Linked DNA regions of Homo sapiens: region 1 is linked to region 2. Evidence: fine-mapped expression QTL. A gene starts in region 2. The other region holds a variant in brackets. All regions are shown on one strand. Distances are from middle to middle.

Region 1 (10,747 bases), 43 kb before region 2:
ATACAGTAAATATTGGTAAGTATAACCCACATAAACAAAAGCTCATTGAGTACCTTAATTTTTAAGAATGTAAAGGGATCCTAAGACCAAAAACTTGAGAACTGCTCTAGGTCATGCACAGAGGTGGCTTTCTATATTTTGACTTTGATCTAATAATACATTAAAGTCAGGTAAAGAGATAACTACTCAACATTGTCTTAATAAAACATAGACATGACATTAAAATTCTGGCTTATACAGACTACAGTAGGAAAAAAGCTGATATAAAAACTGCAGGAGCTCACATCTGGAAAAGCATAGTAAAAATGCCCAAATCTAGCAAAAAGCCATACAGTTAACCCTCCATATCTGTGGGTGCTGCATCCATAAATTCAACCAAGAATCGAAAATATTTGGGGGGGAAAAAATCAACCTGCATCTGTACTGAACATGTACAGACTTTTTTCTTGTCCTTATTTTCTAAACAATACAGTATAACAACTATTTAAACAGTTTTTATTTATTTTGAGAGAGTTTCACTCTGTCGCCCAGGCTGGACTGCAGTGGAGCGATCTTGGCTCACTGCAACCTTTGCCTCCTGGGTTCAAGAAATTCTCATGCCTCAGCCTCCCAAGTAGCTGGGATTACAGGCGTGAGCCACCATGCCCAGCCTTACATAGCTTTTACATTGCATTAGGTATTATAATTTAGAGATAATTTAAGAATACAAGAGGCCAGGCACGGTGGTTCATGCCTGTAATTGTAGCATTTTGGGAGGCTGAGGTGGGAGAATTGCTTGAGCCCACAAGCTGGAGACCAGCCTGAACAACATGGTAAAACGCCATCTCTACAATAAATACAAAAAATTAGCTGGGCCTGGTGGGGTAAGCCTGTAGTTCCAGCCACTTGGGAAGCTGAGGTGGGAAGATGACATGAGCCTGGGAGATGAACGCTGCAGTGAGCCATGATTGTGCCACTGCACTCCAGTCCGGGTGACAGAGTGAGACCCTGTCTCAGAAATAAAAGTATAAGGAGGATGTGCATAGACTATATGCAAATATTACACCATTTTACATCAGGGACTTGCACATCTGCAGATTTTGGTATCTACAGGAAGTCCTGGAATCAAACCCCACAGATACCAAGGGACGACTGTACTTTTTATTTTTATTAAAAAAATAAAATAAAATAAATAGAGATAGAGATCTCACTATCTTGCCCAGGCTGGTCCCAAACTCCTAGGCTCAAGTGATACCTCCACCCTGGGCCTCCCAAAGTGCTGGGATCACAGGCGTGAGCCACCACACCTGGCCTGTACTTCTATCTACAAGCAATACATACACACTTAAGAGTTGATATTAAGAAATATTACCTTCTCTTGGCTTACTTCCTTTTCATCTGCTGTTTGTAAGGGAGTAGGAATATCACACACACACTTATTTTTTCGTCTATTCTTCCGTTTTTGGCGTTTCTTTTCTTGCTTGAGTTCTCTTACTCGTTCCTCTTCTGAAAATTCCTCACAAAGTTGTTCCAATCTGCTAATACCCTGTACTTTTTCCACGGTCATCTATTATAAAAATAAGGTTGAGGGTGAATATTGGTCAGAACTTCTTTTCTTTTTTTTTTGAGACGGAATCTTGCTCTGTCGCCCAGACTGGAGTGCAGTGGCATGATCTCAGCTCACTGCAAGCTCCACCTCCTGGGTTCACGCCATTCTCCTGCCTCAGCCTCCTAAGTAGCTGGGACTACAGGTGCCCGCCACCACGCCCGGCTAATTTTTTGTATTTTTTAGTAGAGACGGGGTTTCACCGTGTTAGCCAGGATGGTCTCGATCTCCTGACCTCGTGATCCACCCGCCTCAGCCTCCCGAAGTGCTGGGATTACAGGCGTGAGCCACCGTGCCCGGTCCCTTTGTTTTCTGTGGTAATATACACACTCCTATTCCAAACCAGCAAGATTCTAGTTTTAAATTTCAGAATTTTTTTTTTTTTTGAGACAGAGTCTTGCTCCATCGCCCAGGCTGGAGTACAGTGGCACCATCTCAGTTCACTGCAACCTCTACCACCCAGGTTCAAGCGATTCTCCTGCCTCAGCCTCTCAAGTAGCTGAGACCACAGGCATGCGCCACCACACTGGCTGATTTTTGTATATTTAGTAGAGACAGGGTTTCGCCATCATGGCCAGGTTGGTCTCGAACTCCTGGCCTCAAGTGATCCGCCCACCTTGGCCTCCCAAAGTGCTGGGATTACAGGCATGAGACACCATATCTGGCCTAAATTTCAGAATTTTAACACAACAAAAGTAAACATACCATTTACTGACATAATGAAAAAACTATTTAACCTGATTAGATGATCTAGTCTCTGAAGGTACAAAAATACAAAGAGAAAACGAGTAAGGGCTGGGCGCCGTGGCTCATGCCTGTAATCCCAGCACTTTGGGAGGCCAAGGCAGGCAGCGGATCACGAGGTCAGGAGATTGAGACCATCCTAACTAACATGGTGAAACCCTGTCTCTACTAAAAATACACAAAAAATTAGCCGAGCGTGGTGGCGGGCGCCTGCAGTCCCAGCTACTCGGGAGGCTGAGCCAGGAGAATGGTGTGAACCCAGGAGGTGGAGCTTGCAGTGAGCCGAGATCATGCCACTGCACTCCAGCCTGGGTAACAGAGCGAGGCTCCGTCTCAAAAAAAAAAAAAGAAAAGAAAAGAAAAGAAAGAAAGAAAAATAGTCCTTATACCATGGCATTCACACAGCATTTACTTCATACTACTGGACATTAGCAGGCAAAATGAAACTCACTGAAGGTTTTAACATTTCCTGCTTAATCCTTGGGGGCATTTAACTTTTCACTAGTTATGTGTGTTTTTTTTGTTTTGTTTTTGTTTTTGTTTTTGTTTTGAGACGGAGTTTTGTTCTTGTTGCCCAGGCTGGAGTGCAGTGACGTGATCTTGGCTCACTGCAACCTCCACCTCCCAGGTTGAAGCAACTCTCCTGTCTCAGCCTCCCAAGTAGCTGGATTACAGGTGCCCGCCACCACGCCCAGCTAATTTTTGTATTTTTAGTAGAGACGGGGTTTCATCATATTGGTCAGGCTGGTCTCAAACTCCTGACCTCAGGTGATCCGCCTGCCTCGTCCTCCCAAAGTGCTGGGATTACAGGCGTAAGCCACCATGCCCAGCCTCACTAGTTATGTTTCATAGCAGCATCTTATTAAACATCTTCAGTTTTCTACTCTGAGAAAGTCTAAAAACCAAAGCTAGCAAAGTTAACAGGATTAAAAACATTTTTTTAAATCCATCAACTTCTTCTAAATCCCAGTTCCCTAGACCACCCCCACTCCAACCCAAAGCCATGTAACAATATCCAGCCAAATCCATGAAGCTCTATCAGTGATGGACAGTCCTTTTAGGCACTGGTGGCTTACATTAAGATTCAGTCCAATAACGTGACTAAGCAATCTGAGATACTGGAACAGCCCACTGTTCTTACCTCAAAACTCTTGCGTAAAGCATCAACACCAAGATAGAAAAGCATCTGCCATGTCTGCTCTTCTGCCCGTAGCTTCTGCCAGATTCGATGCAGTCTTTCATAAAGATGAATTCCCAAGCAGGTCAGAACTTCTTCTTGAGCTATATCTATTGTCTTTGCATGCCTTTCTCTTCGCCTATAAAAGGGAATAATCACACACTAATACCTTTAACTGAAACAGTAAAAGATGGATAACACAGCTGCAAGTTCAGGTTTTAAACACAATGTGCTTACCTAGTAACAAGACAGTTATACATTTACACTCAACGTATATGTTGCTATACAAGCATGCATGTCCACAACCAATGAGAAATACACATGCAAGTAGAATTTAGTCCTCGTATTGCTAAAAATAAAGTAATTCAGGAACTGGCTCTAAAAAGATGGGTTTTAGGGCACAAAGCAATCACATAGAAGTGTCCAGCTCATAGTAGACACAACAGTTCCTTTTACTTTCCAATTATAGCAAAACATTTTTTCCTTCTTTAGGTTTTTTGTTTTGAGGAGGAATTGAGAAAGGCAATGCCAAAGTGATTCATCATGGGCAAGAGTCCTCCACCAGGCCAGTCTTTACAAGTGTTCACAGAACTTTGGCGATAAAAAAGCCCTTTGTATTCTAGCAGAAAGTAGGCACTCAAATGAGGGTTGATACCCTAAATACAAAAGGAAATGCATTTGATTTATTCTATTAACATCATCATCTGATTTTATTTTTACAACAAAGCCAGAGATACTACTTTAGGTTTCTGTGTAGTAATAATAATATAATATACACAGTTCGTGAATTACATTCAATAAGGCATTTCTTAATCCCCTACTGCAAAGATCTGACTTATGCAAAAACCATTATTGTGAATAAAATTTACACATGATAATGCATGGATAGAGGGAGAAAAATCCCTTCTAATCATTTTCAAATGAAAATGATAGTCTGTAACAATGAAAGCCAAAAAAGCCTGCCTCCCTTCAAGCAAGAACTAGCAGAGGACTGAACCAAACACCAGAGAACAGTTTTTCCCTATTTTCAGTCAATTAAGAAATGCATACTTTAAAGAGAAGCAAAATCTTTACAGGCATACTTTAATTTATACATATATCATATGTACTGAGGCAGAAGGTGATGAAAATAAACTTTCAGTAATAAAATGAAGCAAAGCGCTAGATAGCCCATTCTAGCAAATTACATACTCATACCCTCCTGCGAACTCTGGCTCAGCACGACCCAAAAGATGTGCAATGAAGTCTGTTTCACAGCAAACATGTATGTGTCGTTCATGTGGACAGCACCGCAAGCCTTCATAAAGTGCAGCACAGTAGCCCTTTTCTTTGCTGCAGTCAAGTTCACCAATAAGGATATTGTATGCTCGGAGGACTTTATTTTTGCAATCAGTGCAAAACCTGTTGAAAAGAAAAACCTTAAAATTAAGAAATGGCTGTGCAATTATTTCTTGTGGCATATAACAGTGTACTAGATGATGGCACTCTCTCCCATCTACAGCATCCAAAATAAGCCTCCATACACACATTTAAAACATACGCACATAAGGTAAATACAAATTTAGGGATTGCATAAATACAGATAGACCTTCATTGGCAAATTATTTTTAAACTAGAGAAACACATAGCCTAAAAGAATGAGGCAGATACATACCTATTATTTCATAAAATGCATGCCCAGAAAAGTATTAGTTGCCAAGAACTAGCATATCTCCACTTCAAAAGCTATTTGCGCAGGTCAGAAATAAAACAATAGAGGCAACAAACCAATGACTCTTGATTGGTTTGTTCTCTCTCCTTCCAGTCTCTGAAAATAGATGGTCTCTTCAGCAAGGAGACCTTGACTCCAATTTCTATTACAACATTTTAATATTTCACTAGCTAAGCATTTGAGGATAGGGGTAGGGGTTGGGGTGGGGAGAAGAATGGGAAAGTGGTGTGTGCATTTTTTAATTTTCTGATTATTTCCAAAATGCCAAATTCTTTCTTCCCAAAAATGCCTATTTCTCAATAACAAACATAATATAGACAAAATATACATGGAAACTGGTTTAAACTTAAGTGTATAAAATGTGGCAAAAGAATAGAAGAGTTTGTGAATGTAGAGAAGGAAGAAAATTTCTTTTAGAAACCAAATATCAATCAATCAGAAAGAAATAATAGAGCCTGGTTTCTTTATCTTTGAATTCCTGGAACAAGAAGAACTTGGTCAGGTGGAAAAGCCAGGCTCACAATAAGAGTAAATGGCTAAGAAGATTAGTTAAGTGAAACAAGGAAATTTTGATCTCTTTGATTTAAATTCATCTCCCAGATGAGCTCATCTATG[C/A]GTATGGCTTCAACTAACATGTCTATAAAGATGACTTGTGACTCTACAGCTCCATTCAAATCTCTGCTATTGCCTGAGGGCCAGACCCATATCGAAAAGTGACAAGACATGGCAGATGTCCAATAGGCAACACCTTAAATTCACTGTCCAAGGGTAATGCTGTTCTATTCCTATGTGCCTTCTCAATCCCTGTTAATAAGAACACTGCCATTCACAGCCATTCAGAGTCACCCAGGCTGGAAATCTGAGTTAATTCCAACTTCTCCCTGGGTCTTCCTATTGAGTAGAGCCAACTAGTATTCATTCTTTCTTGTTTCTCCTGTAGGTCCCTATTTTCAATTCCCTCTGGCATGGTTTAAGTTGCCTATGCTATATATATATATATACACATATATATACATATATATACATATACATATATACATATACACACACACACACACACACACACACACACACACATATATATATATTTTTTTTTTTTTTTTTTTTTTTTTTTTTTTTGAGACAGAGTCTCTCTCTGTTGCCCAGGCTGGAGTGCAGTGGCGCCATCGAGGCTCACTGTAACCTCTGCCTCCTGGGTTCAAGCGATTCTCCTGCCTCAGTCTCCCGAGTCGCTGGGATTACAGGCGCCCACCACTACACCCAGCAAATTTTTTGTATTTTTTAGTAGAGACAGGGTTTCGCCAAGTTGGCCAGGCTGGTCTTGAACTCTTGAACTCAGAGGATCTGTCCGCCTAAACTAAGCTAGAGTGCAGCGGGACAATCATGGCTCACTGCAACCACCGCCCCCCAGGTTCAAGCAATTCTCGTACCTCAGACTCCTGAGTAGGAGGGATTGCATGCGCCCACCACCACACTGGGCTGATTTTTGTGTTTTTAGTGCAGATGGGGTTTCACCATGTTGGCCAGGCTGGTCTTGAACTTCTGACCTCAAAGTGATCCCTCCACCTCAGCCTCCCAAAGTGTTGGGATTACAAGCATCAGCCACCACGCCCGGCCTAGACTTCTTACTATAGTATTTACCCTTCTACTGCCATATCTTTGTTTCATGCACACACGTTTTGCTGGACCAATAGTAGATAACAATGTTTCTTAAAATGAAGATATGGGCTGGGCGCGGTGGCTCACGTCTGTAATCCCAGCCCTTTGGGAGGCAAAGGCGGGTGGATCATCTGAGCTCAGGAGTTCGAGATCAGCCTGGCCAACATGGTGAAACCCCGTCTCTACTAAAAATACAAATATTAGCCAGATGTGGTGGCATACACCTGTAATCCCAGCTACTCAGGAGGCTGAGGCAGGAGAATTGCTTGAACCCGGGAGGCAGAGGTTGCAGTGAGCCAAGATCGCACCACTGCACTCCAGCCTGCATAAGAAGAGCGAAACTCCATCTCAAAAAAAAAAAAAAATATATATATATATATATATATATATATATATATATGTTACATTAGAGGCTCTAAGCCCACTTGGTAAACAGAGGCAACAATGCTGACAAATAATGTTAAATTATGTTATTTCACTAAAGTTTTAAATATGGGCAAAAATATACAAAAATTAACACAAAATGGATTAAAAACTAAATGTTAACATCTGAAAACCATAAAACTAGAAGAAAACATAGGGGAAACTCTTCATGACACTGGACTAAGTGATGATTTCCTGGCTATGACACCAAAAGCACACATGCACAACAAAAACAAAAATAGATGCTTCTCTGAGAAAACACCAAATGGCAGATGATGCTGGTGGCAGCCGGTGGTGGGGATCGCCTGGGATGGGGAAATGCAGTGGCTTCCGTGGAGGTTTCGGCAGTGGCATCCGGGGCCGGGGCTGGGGCTGAGGCCGCGGCTGAGGCCGCAGAGCTCATGGAGGCAAGGCCGAGGATAAAGAGTGGATGCCTATCACCAAGCTGGGCCGCCTGGTCAAGCACATGAAGATCAAGTCCCTGGAGGAGATGTATGTCTTCTCCCTGCCCATGAAGGAATCTGAGATCACTAACTTTTTCCTGGGGGCCTCTCTCAAGGACGAGGTTTTGAAGATTATGCCAGTGCAGAAGCAGACCCGTGCCGGCCAGCGCACCAGGTTCAAGATGTTTGTTGCCATCGTGGACTACAATGGCCACATCGGTCTGGGTGTTAAGTGCTCCAAGGAGGTGGCCACTGCCATCCACGGGGCCATCATCCTGGCCAAGCTCTCTATTGTCCCTGTGCACAGAGGCTACTGGGGGAACAAGATCAGCAAGCCCCACACCATCCCTTGCAAGCCGACAGGCCACCACGGCTCTGTGCTGGTGCGCCTCATCCCTACGCCCAGAGGCACTGGCATCGTCTCAGTGCCTGTACCCAAGAAGCTGCTTATGATGGCTGGTATTGATGACTGCTACACCTTAGCCAGGGGCTACACTGCCGCCCTGGGTAACTATACCAAGGACACCTTTGATGCCATCTCTAAGACCTACAGCTACCTGACCCCCGACCTCTGGAAGGAGACTGTATTCATCAAGTCTTCCTGTCAGGAATTCACTGACCATCTCGTCAAGACCCACACCAGAGTCTCCATGCAGAGGACCCAGGCTCCAGCTGTGGCTACAACACAGGGTTTTTATACAAGAAAAATAAAGTGAATTAAGCCTGAAAAAAAAAAAAAAGACTACAGTCGTGTCACTTAACAATGGGACACATTCTGAGAAATGCATTGTTAGCTATTTTGTTGCTGTGCGAACATCAGAGTGTACTTACACAAACCTAGGTAGTATACATATTTTTATTTATATTTTTTTCACATGGAAAACCAAATGTCCCAGCACCATCACTGAATATTAATCATTTCCTCTACTTGATCTGCAACGCAGTATGCTCCATTATAATCTTACGGGCCCACTGTCATATATGTGGTCTATCACTGACCAAAATGTCATCACATAGCACATGACTATGCATTAAACTTAAAAACGTTGGCACAGCAAAGATGATCAACAGAGTAAAAAGGCAACCCAAAGAATGGGAAAAAATATTTGCAAACCATATATTGAATAAGGGGTTAATAGCCAGAATATAAAGAACCACTAGAACTCAATCACAAAAAAAATAGCTTAATTTAAAAATGGGCAAAGCCGTGATCATGCCACTGCACTCCAGCCTGGGCAACAAAGAAGATCCTGTCAAAAAAATAAAATAACTTAAAAGTAAATAAATAAATGGGCAAAGCATGAATCGACATTTCTCCAAAGATTATATACAAATGGCCAGCAAACATATGAAAAGATGCTCAACATCACTAATCATCAGGAAAATGCACATCAAAAACACAATGAGATATCACCTTAAACCAACTAGAATGACCACTATCAAAACAACAACAACAACAAATAACAAGTGTTACTGAGGATGTGAAGAAATTGGAACCCTTATGCACTGCTGGCAGGAATATAAAACGGTACAGCTGCTATGGAAACCGGTACGGAAGTTCTTCAAAATAAAACTACCATACGATCCAGGAATCCCACTTCTAGGTATATATCCAAAAGAACTGATAGCAAGGATCTTGAAGAGATATTTGCACACTCATGTTCACTGCAGCATTTATTGACAACAGGCGAAATGTGAGAGCAACCTTCAATGTCCATCAATGTATGAATGGACAAAGAAATGTGAATAGCCAGGTGCGGTAATCCCAGCACTTTGGGAGACCGAGGCGAATGGATCACTTGAGGTCTGGAGTTCAAGACCAGCCTGACCAACAAGGTGAAACCCTGTCTCTACTAAAAACACAAAAATTAGCCAGGTGTGGTGGTGTGTGCCTGTAATCCCAGCTACTCAGGAGGCTGAGGCAGGAGAATCACTTGAACTCGGGAGGCGGAGGTTGCAGTGAACCGAGATCAAGCCACTGCACCCCTGCCTGGGCAACAGAGCGAGACTGTCTCAAAAAAAAAGAAAAAAGAAAAGTGAATAATATCACATATACTATGACACTGCCCATTTTTAAATAATGTCACAGTATTGTGACATTATTCAGCTTTTAGAGGGGAATCCTGTCATATGCTACAACATAGATGAATCTTAGACATTATCTAAGTATTGTCTTAGATAATGGCTAAGTAAAATAAGCCAATCACAAAAATTCAAGTGCTACATTATCCCATTTATATGAGCTATCTAAAATAATTAAACTCAGAAACAGAAAGAAGAATTGTGGTTGCTAGGGGGTGAGGGGAGAAAAAAGGTGTTGTTCAATGCGTATAGTTTCAGTTGAGATGAAAAAGTTCTAGAGATCTGTTGTACAACAATGTGCATATAGTTAACAAAATTATAATGTACACTTAAAAACTGTTTGAAAGGTAAATTTATGTTTCACGGTTTTTTGAGACAGGGTCTCACTCTGTTGCCCAGGCTGGAGTGCAGTGGCATACTCTTGTCTCACTGTAGCCTCAACCTCCCTAGTAGGCTCAGGTGACCCTCCCCGCCTCATCCACCTGAGTACCTGGGACTACAGGTGTGTGCCACCACGCATGGCTAATATTTGTATTCTTTGGAGAGACAGGGTTTGGCCATGTTGCCCAGGCTAGTCTTGAACTCCTGGGCTCAAACAATCCGCCCACCTCAGTCTCCCAAAATGCTGAACTGTGAGACACTGTGCTTAGCCTTATTTTGTGTTCTTTTAAAATATACACATACGCGCGCAGGAACAGAAAGTCTCTCCTTTAGGAGAGAAAAAACGGACACAGAAATAACAACAAATACTTCCACATTTTCAGGTTATAAACAGCAAGTTCACATTTTCAGGTAATTAAATGGTCAAATATCAAAGAGAACAATAATAAAACTTGAAATATTTTCCCCCTATTTTACTGCTTTATACTCTCATAGTAGTTTAATATATGTTTGATTGTACAACTATAAGCATAAGTAAATAG
Region 2 (10,747 bases):
AAAGTGCTAGGATTACAGGCGTGAGTCACCATGCCCAGCCTTCCATCTATTCTTTGGTGCATTTAACTGTCTGACTTCATAGTATATAAGTATTTTATTTTTAAAATTTTTCTTTTTATATCCACCCATCTGCACATTGGAGTGTTTGATTTTAAACACTTGCTTCTTAGTCCTAGGTTTTATTCAAAAATTTAAATTGAGCAATAAACAAGTATTGACAATCCACAGTTCACACTGAAATGTCAACATAAACATTTCATTTTATATTTATTGTAAAAGCAATATACAGTAAAAATACAGAATAGCATAAGGTTACATTAAGATGGAAAGTAAAAATTTTCCTCCCCCCACCCCAACAGTCTTTCAATGTCACAACTATAAAGTTTCTTTAAAATACTACTTAATACATTCTAACAAGTCAAAAGGCTTTGTTTCTTCTTGGTTTTATTGTTGAGATACATTAAAATATTAAGCATTGGCCCAGTGTGGTGGCTCACACCTGTAATCCCAGCACTTTGGGAGGCCAAGGTGGGTGTTATCACTTGAGTTCAGGAGTTTGAGACCAGCCTGGCCAATATGGCAAAACCCCATCTCTACTAAAAATATAAAAATTAGCTGGGCATGGTGGTACATGCCTACAGTGCCAGCTACTCAGGAGGCTGAGGCAGGAGAATTGCTTGAACCCGGGAGGTGGAGGTTGCAGTGAGCTGAGATGGCACCACTACACTCCAGCCTGGGTAACAGAGCAAGACTCTGTCTCAAAAAAAAAAATAATTAAGCATCACTGCTGTTTAGATGACTGAAACTATTTTATAATAAAATATGGTTAACACTGTTGCCAAAAGCACAATTTCTTTACAATTAATATTCCTCATTAAATATTGCCCAAATACTTATATATCCTACTCCTGCTGATCACCAAAATTGTACAGTCTTATCTTGCAAATATAGTACATATACAATTAAACAGTTGGAAAACATATAGAGATTGACCACAAATAAGGCCCACAAGGTACTGCTGTGTAATGTATCTACCATCAGGTTGATCAGGCCAGTTGTTATATTTGACAGCAAGAAAAATATTAACTGTTTTCTGTTTAGAGCTGTGATTAAACAAAGACTGGGTTCCATTCTTTCGGCTTCAGGGACTAGAGATTCTGAATGCTTTTTATTTGTAACAGGTGACTGGATAAGTTTCCAAGAACATGGTACTAGAGCTCCTTTAATTAGAAATTTGGCAAAACTCAAAATTATATCACCCAGTAATAAACTACTAAGAAGGATCAGGCTAGAAGCAACTATCCAAATACAAAAGGCTAAATTTGCCATTCTTCGAGATACTGCTTCTACATTTACTTGAACTACGTAAAGAGATATGAAGAGGCTAATAGCTGCCAGTAAAAGAAAACAGGCTACTTTTATCAAGTCTTTGATATGTGATCGGTTCTTATGCATATATAACCCTGTTTGCACACCAGCCATGTGTATTGCCACATACCCCAGGGTAGAGATTATTCCTTCGCGGTTGGCATTTAATAGACCAACCCGTGTGCCACTACCATCAGTGCCATATAATATTAACCTCTTCAGTGAGGTAAAGTCAAGGGCTAGCTGGTATAATACAGTAATGCCGAGGGCAATAATCCAGGACTTATTTAGGGGAAAAATAATCAACAGCAGTGGTGTTATCAATTTCACAACTATTATGGTAAAGAAAAAGTTCCAGTGAACTCCATACTCTGTTAAATGTTCCTGATAGCCTATTGATTTTATAATGGCTAATCGTCCGATTCCTAGGAAGACTAATGGCCAAACAGAGTACAATGAGTTTGTAAAGTAATGCAATTTGGACCCTTCCATATATTTTCTCCTCCTGACCTCTAGACAAACCATTGCAGACCCAAAAACAAAGCCACCTACTCCAAAATCCATTGCTCCTGTCCCATAGAGCTCAGTTTTGGCAAATCTTCTGGGAAAAAGTGGGAAGTCCACAGCCAAAATAGCAATAGCAGTAAACGCACTGGTAATTACACGGAAACAGGAGATGGCTGGATTGTATTCTGATTCTAGACTGATGTTCAAGAATTTTTCAAGGATTTTTAGGAAAGGCAGTCTGGCATAGCAGGTCCTCCTTCGGTATATTTGATACAACAGCCCTGCCCCAAAGATAATTACACCGAGAAGCTCAAGGAGGATAAATGAAGCCCAAATGGTCAAAGTGGCTACCATGGGAACTATTAGGACAACAAAGTCAGTGAGGAATCTAGTTTTCCAGGTAGGTGAAAAAGAACACAAGTACTGTGAGAAAATGATCAGGAACCCTCTGCACAGGATACAGAATGCAGGAAAGCACAATCCCTGGGTGATTTCCAGCACGGTGGTTCCATTGAGGTTACTGACAAAAGCTTCCTTCATCTGCTTTTCAGACATTTTTCTTCCTGTGAAAACAAGAGCAAAGGAATGGATTTGTGAAAAGCAGCATTCTTGTGTAATTAGCATACCTGGCTTAATTTTACTCTTATTACTAGATTTCAGAGCAGAACTTTGGGCCCTAATGAGTTCACCTAGGATTTGTGATTCCCCTTCCAAGGATTGTGGGAAGAAGCTTAACACTAATGTGTTCAGATAGAAATGTCATACTAATAATATTAAATTATTGGTTACAAAGCTTCAGCTATTCCCTGTACAAGACAGACTCACAAAGAAAGTGAATTTGGGGCCAGGCGTGGTGGCTCACACCTGTAATCCTAGCACTTCGGGAGGCCGAGGTGGGAGGATCACCTGAGGTCAGGAGTTCGAGACCAGCCTGGTCAACATGGTGAAAGCCCGTCTCTACTAAAAATACAAAAATTAGCCAGGCGTGATGGCACCCGCCTGTAATCCCAGCTACTTTAGAGGCTGAGGCAGGAGAATCGGTTGAACCGGGGAAGCAGAGGTTGGAGTGAGCCATTGCACTCCAGCCTGGGCCACAGAGTGAGACTCCATCTCAAAAAAAAAAAAAAAAAAAGGAAAAGAAAAAGCAAAGGAAAAGAGAGCGAATTTGGGATATAAACTCTGAGAATGGCATCATAGGCAGATGGGAATTTCTATTATGGAGCACAGTACGTATCATGAAGATTCTTTGATGCAAATTGAATAGGATTTACTAATGACCTTAAAGCAAATTCAAACGCTAGGGGCCAAGTACATTTTGAAGTTGGGGGCCTTGGTTCCAGTTCAGAGCCTCTCCAAACCTACTGCCTTGGTACAAAACGTGACCCCTGCAGTGATTTCTGGATCCCCAGGCTGCTCCTTTCCTCATTTACAGACAGCTATGTTTTCAGGTTAGGATGGAAGTAGGTACGGTGGGTGCATTAAGAATGGATGTATAGCACATACTAGTGTTAGTTGCTCTTTTATTAAGGGTTGTAAAACACCTCTGAATGCCACACATCATTGTCTGAAAAACGGCATACTGGAAGAACACATTTGTTGGTTAAACATGAACCTAGAGTTTCTAAATGTACCATGAGCTGAATAAGTAAGTGAATGCATGCGTGCATTATGGCCTGTCTGGAACCTGTGACAATATCTCACAGTAACCAACTCAAATCAGTTGACCATTAAAAATAAAAGTCCTAGCCGAGAGAAGTGGTTCATGCCTGCAATCCTAGCGCTTTGGGAGGAGAGAGGATCGCTTAAGGCCAGGAGTGAAAAAAAAAAAAAGAAAAATTAAAAATTAGCTGAGCGTGGTGGTGCGCGCCTGTAATGCCAGGCTGAGGCGGGAGGATCGCTTGAGCCCAGAGGTGGAAGGCAGCAGTGAGCCGAGATCGCGCCACTGCACTCCTACCTGGGCGACAGAGCGAGACTCCGTCTCTTAAAAAATAAACATAAAAATAAAAAGTCTTTTTCCTAACAGACGCCCGACCTGGCCGCGCCCTACCCGTATACCTCACGTACTCCAAATGGTGCCGGCGCCCCCAGCAGACGGTCTACGTGGGAAGGGCAGCCGGACTGCCGCTGCACCCGCCAAACCACGCGGGAACCAGCCGCTTCCGCCTCCCGCGCGGCACTTCCGGCCGACGCAGGCAGCTGGCACTTCCGGGCCGGCCGATTCCGCGCGTCTCCGCCCATCATGGCGCTCGTGCCAGTGTCCCGTGGGCTACCCACTCCTGTCATGTCCTTTGGGCTGGTGCAGGCCAGATCTTCTAGGGCCGTAGCCCTGAGAGGAGCGCCTGGAGAGGAAACGGCGCGCCATGCACCTCACACGGCCCCTCAGACCTCACGGCGAGGCCCTATCAGGGTAATGGTGTCCGCCGGCCTCGCACAACACTCCGCCGCACTCGCACAAGACTCCGCCGCGGCGACCTCTACTGAAAGACCCCCAGTCCTGGTGTCGCCCGAAGGCCCAGGAAACCGTGCTTCCGCGCTTCTCCCCCAGAACGTGGGAAGCTGCCGCTTTACCCTCATTTTACCCCAGGGTCGCAAAACATCTCACCGTAGTTGAAGCCAGCAAGCCGGACCAGGCGTCCCGGCCAAGCCACGTGCGCGCCCCGCGCCGCGAGTGCTCGCCCCGCCCCTAGGGAGGAGCCGGCCGACCCCCGGCCACTTAGCAGTGCCGCAGCCGACGGGGTGCGGTTCGGCGCTCCCAGGTTCCTTTCCTCACTGCACGCTCTTGCCCCTCCTCTTTTCTCTCCTGCCCGTGTTCTTCCCGCCGCCTGACCTGGCCCGCCCGCCTTTCCAGTCTGGCCGGGCGGGGGCCTGAAGCACGGCGGCTCGGGCCGTGGGACCGGTGAGTGTCAACCCGAACCTATATCTGAAGCCCTTCAGACGCGGAAGGGGCTTGGGAGGCCAGTTTGCCCCGCAGCGGTGAGGAAGAAGTAGGCGTCTCCACCTCCCCTTCCAAAGCGCCGTTTCCCTCCTTTTTGCCTTTTCCTTTTGACCCTCTTGTGTCTCACGAGGGGGTAGCCCAGCTCTTGGCTCTTGCTTGAAACAAGTCTTTCTTGATCACCCTCCACCTTTCCACCTGGCCGGCAGGGGGCGGCCTGGGGGGAGAGGGTCCTTGCTCCACTCTTCGCCCAGCTGAGGACCCCGGGAGGGGGCGGCTGGTCCCGGGAGGTGTCAGGGCAGCTGCGCCCTTGGCTGGGGTCACGTCCACCTTCCTGGGAAGGACATACTCTCCCCGTGCCAGGTGCTTCCGGAACGGCATCCCAGCCCTGGGTTTGCGGCACGACGCCCGGACCTTGAGTCCCCGGTTCCCGCCGGGAACCTGGGGGCGGAGCCAGCTGGACTGATGAGATCCTTACCCAGCGCTTCTCAGCGTCTGCCCTCCCACTGTCCTCCATGCCTAGAAAGAAACAGTCTGAGAAGGAGGGACTGGTGATCAGGTTGCCACTTGCCTTGATTCGGTGTTCCATTTACTCATTACCGTCTCCTTTCTGCCCACAGTGTTCACACCCTTTCCAGAAATTCTTGGCTGGTAACCGCGAAACCGACTGGAGCAGGAGCTGGGAGAACTGGAGAAAACTGCTCTAATCTCACTTGACTCCAGCTAGGAGCTGATGCTGCATCGTAATAACATTTGCAGAGCGCTTTCACAGGTATTAGCCCCTTTAACGCTTCATTTAGCCCCGTGAGATCTGGATATTATCACTCCGTTTTGTAAACGAGGAAACAGAGTGAGGCTTAGTTCTTGGGTTCTGTGCCAGGGGCCTTGGGTTTTGGATTCAAACCCCAAACCTGTTGTGCTGCCCCTCTGGACCTATTGCTTGAGATGAGTTCCCAGTTGAAAGAGCTTTGTTCTCTGGAGCCCTCTGCATGGCTGTCCCTTGGATGGGGTACAGTCAGTGTCCAGGGTCAGGATCTTTTAGGGCTGTAGCACCACACCTTAAGTGGTCCAGCACGGTCCTGATACCTGTTTCCGCCTCAATTGTCCTTTTTCCAGCTTCTATGGAAGTCCCTATCCCTGGGTTCTTTAAAGACTTGATGTATTCAGAGCCTCAAGAAAGTCTCCACCAGGGTTAATCCATTGCAGGCACGCTTCACCCTCAGCCTCATCTCTCCTTGCTAGGGGTGGTGCCAAGGCCTAGAAAATTCCAAGTCTGAGGGTCACTTAACCATTCTTCAAAGATTGGCTTAGGCCCAGCCTCACAACACCCCACCTCCCAGATGGATTCATCTCCCTGAAATCCTCACCTTCTTGAAGTTGACACTGGACCGTTCACCTGATTAGCGCTCCCAAATGGATCATCAACCCTTAGTCGTAGTGCTAACAGTGTTTATCCTCTGAGTGAATACTCAGATTCGTACTTTGTGTGGTGCTGTCAAACCATGACCTCATTGACCTTCACAACCACTCCTTATGAGGCAGATTTAACTGTCCCCATTTTCAAGGTAAGAAATTGAGGTAGGTGATGTGCCTGACCCAGGATCACACACCCAGTGAGTGATTGAACTGTGATATAAACTACCACACCACACCTTTCCTGGAGCAGCGAGAGATGACTCCAGCCTCTCCTCCTCACCAACGACTGAAATAGGATATTTCTGTCTAATGTAGAGGATAGGGCACAAGGCTTCTCTGTCTCCCCAGTGTCTTACTCCTCCTCCATGGCACACTGACCCAGAGGGTTTGCAGCCCCACCCCAACCCAAACCCTAACCCTGTAATAAAACTGGCCCAGGGAGCCTCTGAGGCTCTCATAAAAGTTTCCCTGTCTCCTAATTGGCAAGGGAAAGGACAGGCCCACTCTCCGCCCAGGCCTGCCTTGCATCTCATTTTGGTTGCTTCTGCTAGGTGGGAAGGAGTGAGTGAGTCACTCCAGAAAAGCCCTCACCTGTGTGTGGTCCTTGTCTTCTCTCTCATGCCACAGGCGCTGGAGTGACTTGTCTGAGATTCCTCCAGAACTGAGCCCTTTGTTGGAACCATACCCCAGCCCATGGTCCCATGACTAGGTGGATAGTACTCCTTGTACCTCCTGCAACCCAGAACCCTGGCTGACCACTTTGAAGGAGGATGCTCCAGCAGGTAAAACCTCAACCTTAGATAACCCAGGCCCTCAAGCACCTGCAGCATCTGTTGCTAGCCCTAACCTGGAAGGAAGGGAAAGCCCCCTTAAAGGTCTCTTTTCTCTCCTCAAATTGTCTCTCCAGTGCCTTTTACTCATCATCAAGAAACTCTTCCTGATACCTAATTTGAATCTGTCTTGTGGTTTTTAGCTCCTTTCTTTGGGATAGGTAAGGTGGGATGGGTAAGGGAATCCTTAGGGCACTTTGGGGATTCTGCAGAGGAAGTCCTGAGAGATGTCCCTGCCACCTGAATTGTTGAGGCATAGTAGAAGCCTGGGGCTTCCAAGAGGATGTGTTCCTTGAAGCTAAGCCTTAAAGAACTAGAAAGAATTAGCCACTTGGAGAAGGAAAATAAGCACTCCAGGCAAAGAGGTCAGCCTGTGCAGAAATGTAGGAGACTATGAGGAAATATAGAAGGATTCTAATGAGTGGATCATGGGTTACATGATCCCCATGTCTCTGCCTCTCTGAAAAGGCTACTGTTGCCCCAGGCCTGTAGGATTCCAAATCACCTTTTACAGCGGAGCTCTCTCTCATACCCATATCATCCTTCATGTGTAACTCTTGGTCCTGAGAGAGTGCCAGTACTTATTTGCTGACTTTTTATTTTACCAAGTGTTGCCAGGCACTGGGCTGAGGCAGATGTTGAGGTTGGTGCTTGCCCTCAAGGAGCTCAGAGTCTAGTGGAGTCTTGGGTAGGTAAGTGCCTGACATCAGCAAGGTAGCAGCCAGGTGTGGGGCCTGCCAGCATCAAGGGAGCCATAGTAGACACTGCAGCTTGACCTTCCAGCCATATGGCTCCTGGAACAGGTTTGAAGGTAAGAAGTGGGCAAAACAGTTGACTGCTCTGGGCTTTTTTCTTGCTTATTTTTAAACTTTTTTTTTCTCTTATTAAAAAAAAGGTATATCAATACAATGGAATAAAGCAAGTTACACAAAAATATAATACTTTTCAATGTTTTTAAAGTATGTAGGGGAAAAAACCTATGATATTCTCTAAAATATTGGTTATTTCTGGGTAGTATGATTATGGATTTTTATGCTCCTTTTGCTTATCTCTATTTTCCAATTTTTTTTTTTTTTTTTTTTTTGAGATGGAGTCTCACCCTGTCATCCAGGCTGGAGTGTAGTGGCTTGATCTTGGCTCACTGCAATCTCTGCCTCCCAGGTTCATGCTATTCTCCTGCCTCAGCCTCCCGAGTAGTTGGGACTACTGGTGCTGGCCACCACGCCTGGCTAATTTTTTGTATTTTTTAGTAGAGATGGGGTTTCACCGTGTTAGCCAGGATGGTCTCGATCTCCTGACCTCGTGATCCACCCACCTCGGCCTCCCAAAGTGCTGGGACTACAGGCGTGAGCCACCGCGCCCAGCCTCCAAATTTTTTTTAATAATTTTTGTTTATTTATTTTTATTTTAGAGATGGAGTCTCACTCTGTAGACAAGGCTGGTCTCAAACTCCTGACCTCAAGTGATCCGTCTGCCTCAGCCTCCCAAAGTGCTTTTACAGGGGTGAGCCACCGCACCCAGCCGTGAGACCCTGTCTCTTAAATAAATAAATAAATAAGGCCAGGCACGGTGGCTCATGCCTGTAATCCCAATACTTTGGGAGGTCGAGGCGGGCAGATCACCTGAGGCCAGGAGTTCAAGACCAGTCTGGCCAACATGGCAAAACCCCATTTCTACTAAAAATACAAAAACTAGCCAGGTATGGTGGTGCATGCCTGTGATCCCAGTTACTTGGGTGGCTGAGGCATGAGAATCACTTGAACCTGGGAGACAGTGGTTGCAGTGAGCCGAGATTGTGCCACTGCACTCCAGCCTGGGCGATAGAGCGAGACTCTGTGTCAAAAAAAAAAAAAAATACAAAAGCCACTTTTACGCGTGCCTGTAGTCCCAGCTACACAGGAGGCTGAGGCAGGAGAATGGCGTGAACCCGGGAGGCGGAGCTTGCAGTGAGTCGAGATCGCGCCACTGCACTCCAGCCTGGGCGACAGAGCGAAACTCCGTCTCAAAAAAAAAAAAAAAAAAAAAAAGCCACTTTTAGAAGAAGAATAGCTAACCCCTTTTGGCAGATTCCAGATGGCCTTTCTAAATCCTTCGTGTGTTTTTGTGCTTGTGAGTATCTGTGAGGTAGGTACCATTATCCCATTTTACAGAAAAGAACTTTAAATAATTATTTAGAGACAGGGTCTCACTTTGTTGCCCAGTGCAGTGATATCCCCATAGCTCACTGTAGCCTCGACCTCCTGGGCTGAAGCAACCCTCCTGCCTCAGCCTCTAGAATAGCTGGGGTTACAGGCACATGCCATAATGCCCAGCTAATTTTTAAATATTTTTTATAGAGACAGGGTCACCTTGGCCTCCCTAAGTGCTGGGATTACAGGCTTAAGCCACTATGGCCAGCTGGAAATTTTTCTATTTTTATTTTTTACTTTAGAGACAAGGTCTTGCTCTGTTGGCCAGGCTAGAGTGCAGCGGTACAATCATAACTCATTGCAGCCTCGAACTTTTAGGCCCAAGTGGTTCTTCTACCTAAGCCTCCCAAGTAGCTGGGATTACAGGGACCAGATGAGGAGAATTGAGGCAGAAAGAGATTAAGAAATTAACATAAGAGTATATAACTGTAAGAGATAGAGTCAGGATTCAGAGCCAGACAACTAACTTTCAAGTCCAGGTACTTGATCACTATACTCAGATGCCTCTCTGGTTGGATCAGAACTCTTCATAAATTGTGTCTGTGTTTGTGAATGGTTTGTGTAGTGGTGGTTTTTTTTTCCCCTTCATAAAAGGAGAGGGATATGCATAGATATAGCTGTGCTCTGACCTCCGCAGTTACTCTGGAGGCCAAGAGCCTACCTTGTGCATTATAGTGGGCCCAAAGTTCAGAGAACAGGCAACAGTTTTGGAAGAAATGCATTACTGGGCCTCTTGGAGGAAATTTGCCACCATGGCTTATTTCTATGAGAGATTTGAAATTTTAGGCTCACCATTCTCATTGGAAATTCACCTGTTGTATCACAGACCTCTTCCTTCAAAAGCACATTTCAGCAAGATACCTGTCTTCAACCCCCACTCTGTCTTTCCTGCATCCCCAAAGGAGACAGTAGGAGAAATGGGACCACAGGAGGAAGTGGAGGGATGATACATCAAGAATGGGCAAAGGAAGATAGGGTGACTCATGCCTCTAGTCCCAATTACTCAGGAAGCTGAGGCAGAAGGATCACTTGAGCTCAGGAGTTGGAGGCTGCAGTGAGATATGATCATGCCACTGCACTGCAGCCTGGGTAGCAGAGCAAGACTCCATCTCTTAAAAAAGAAAGGAAAAAAAAAAGATAGGCAAGGGAGGAGAAAGGACCTGTTCCCTTGGTGCTTATTCTTGACCTCAGACAGCCGTCTGAGCCAGGCTTTCTCTCAAGCAGACTCGGGCCAAGGGAACCAATTCATTAGCCAGCCTAAATTTAAGCCACAAAAGGCAGGTGATGAAGACATGGGGCTACCTCTCTCAGAAGGTACAGCTGTTTTACATCAAAAGCTGAACTGTCTCTTCCCAAAAAGGCCTAACCCATGGTTCTTTTCCTTTGCAACATTCCTATAGCCTTATTTCTAATAAGGCTAGTAGCCTGGAAGTGCTACTTGCAAGTGGCCGGAGCTCTTGGCAGAAGAGATAGCATTTGTTGAGTACATGCTGTATGCCGGGCAC

The links.
Region 1: its variant is fine-mapped to the expression of PIGW in whole blood (INTERVAL, PIP 0.97).

The regions. Positions count from the first base shown.
Region 1 is chr17:36,572,143-36,582,889 of GRCh38, reverse strand. GGNBP2 (gametogenetin binding protein 2) reads right to left here. Exons shown (of 14, transcript NM_024835.5): 7 at 4,704-4,907; 8 at 3,471-3,645; 9 at 1,352-1,546. It also overlaps the pseudogene RPS2P50. Among named protein-coding and RNA genes, the nearest start is that of DHRS11, 14 kb to the left of the region's middle. The variant C/A (reference allele first, on the strand shown) is at 5,833.
Region 2 is chr17:36,528,785-36,539,531 of GRCh38, reverse strand. It overlaps PIGW (phosphatidylinositol glycan anchor biosynthesis class W), which reads right to left and starts at 4,545. Exons shown (of 2, transcript NM_001346754.2): 1 at 3,940-4,545; 2 at 229-2,438. The coding sequence starts at 2,430. The coding sequence ends at 916. MYO19 (myosin XIX) reads left to right here and starts at 4,664. Exons shown (of 26, transcript NM_001163735.2): 1 at 4,664-4,771; 2 at 5,428-5,579; 3 at 6,851-7,005. The coding sequence starts at 6,994. RefSeq lists an enhancer at 5,298-5,973.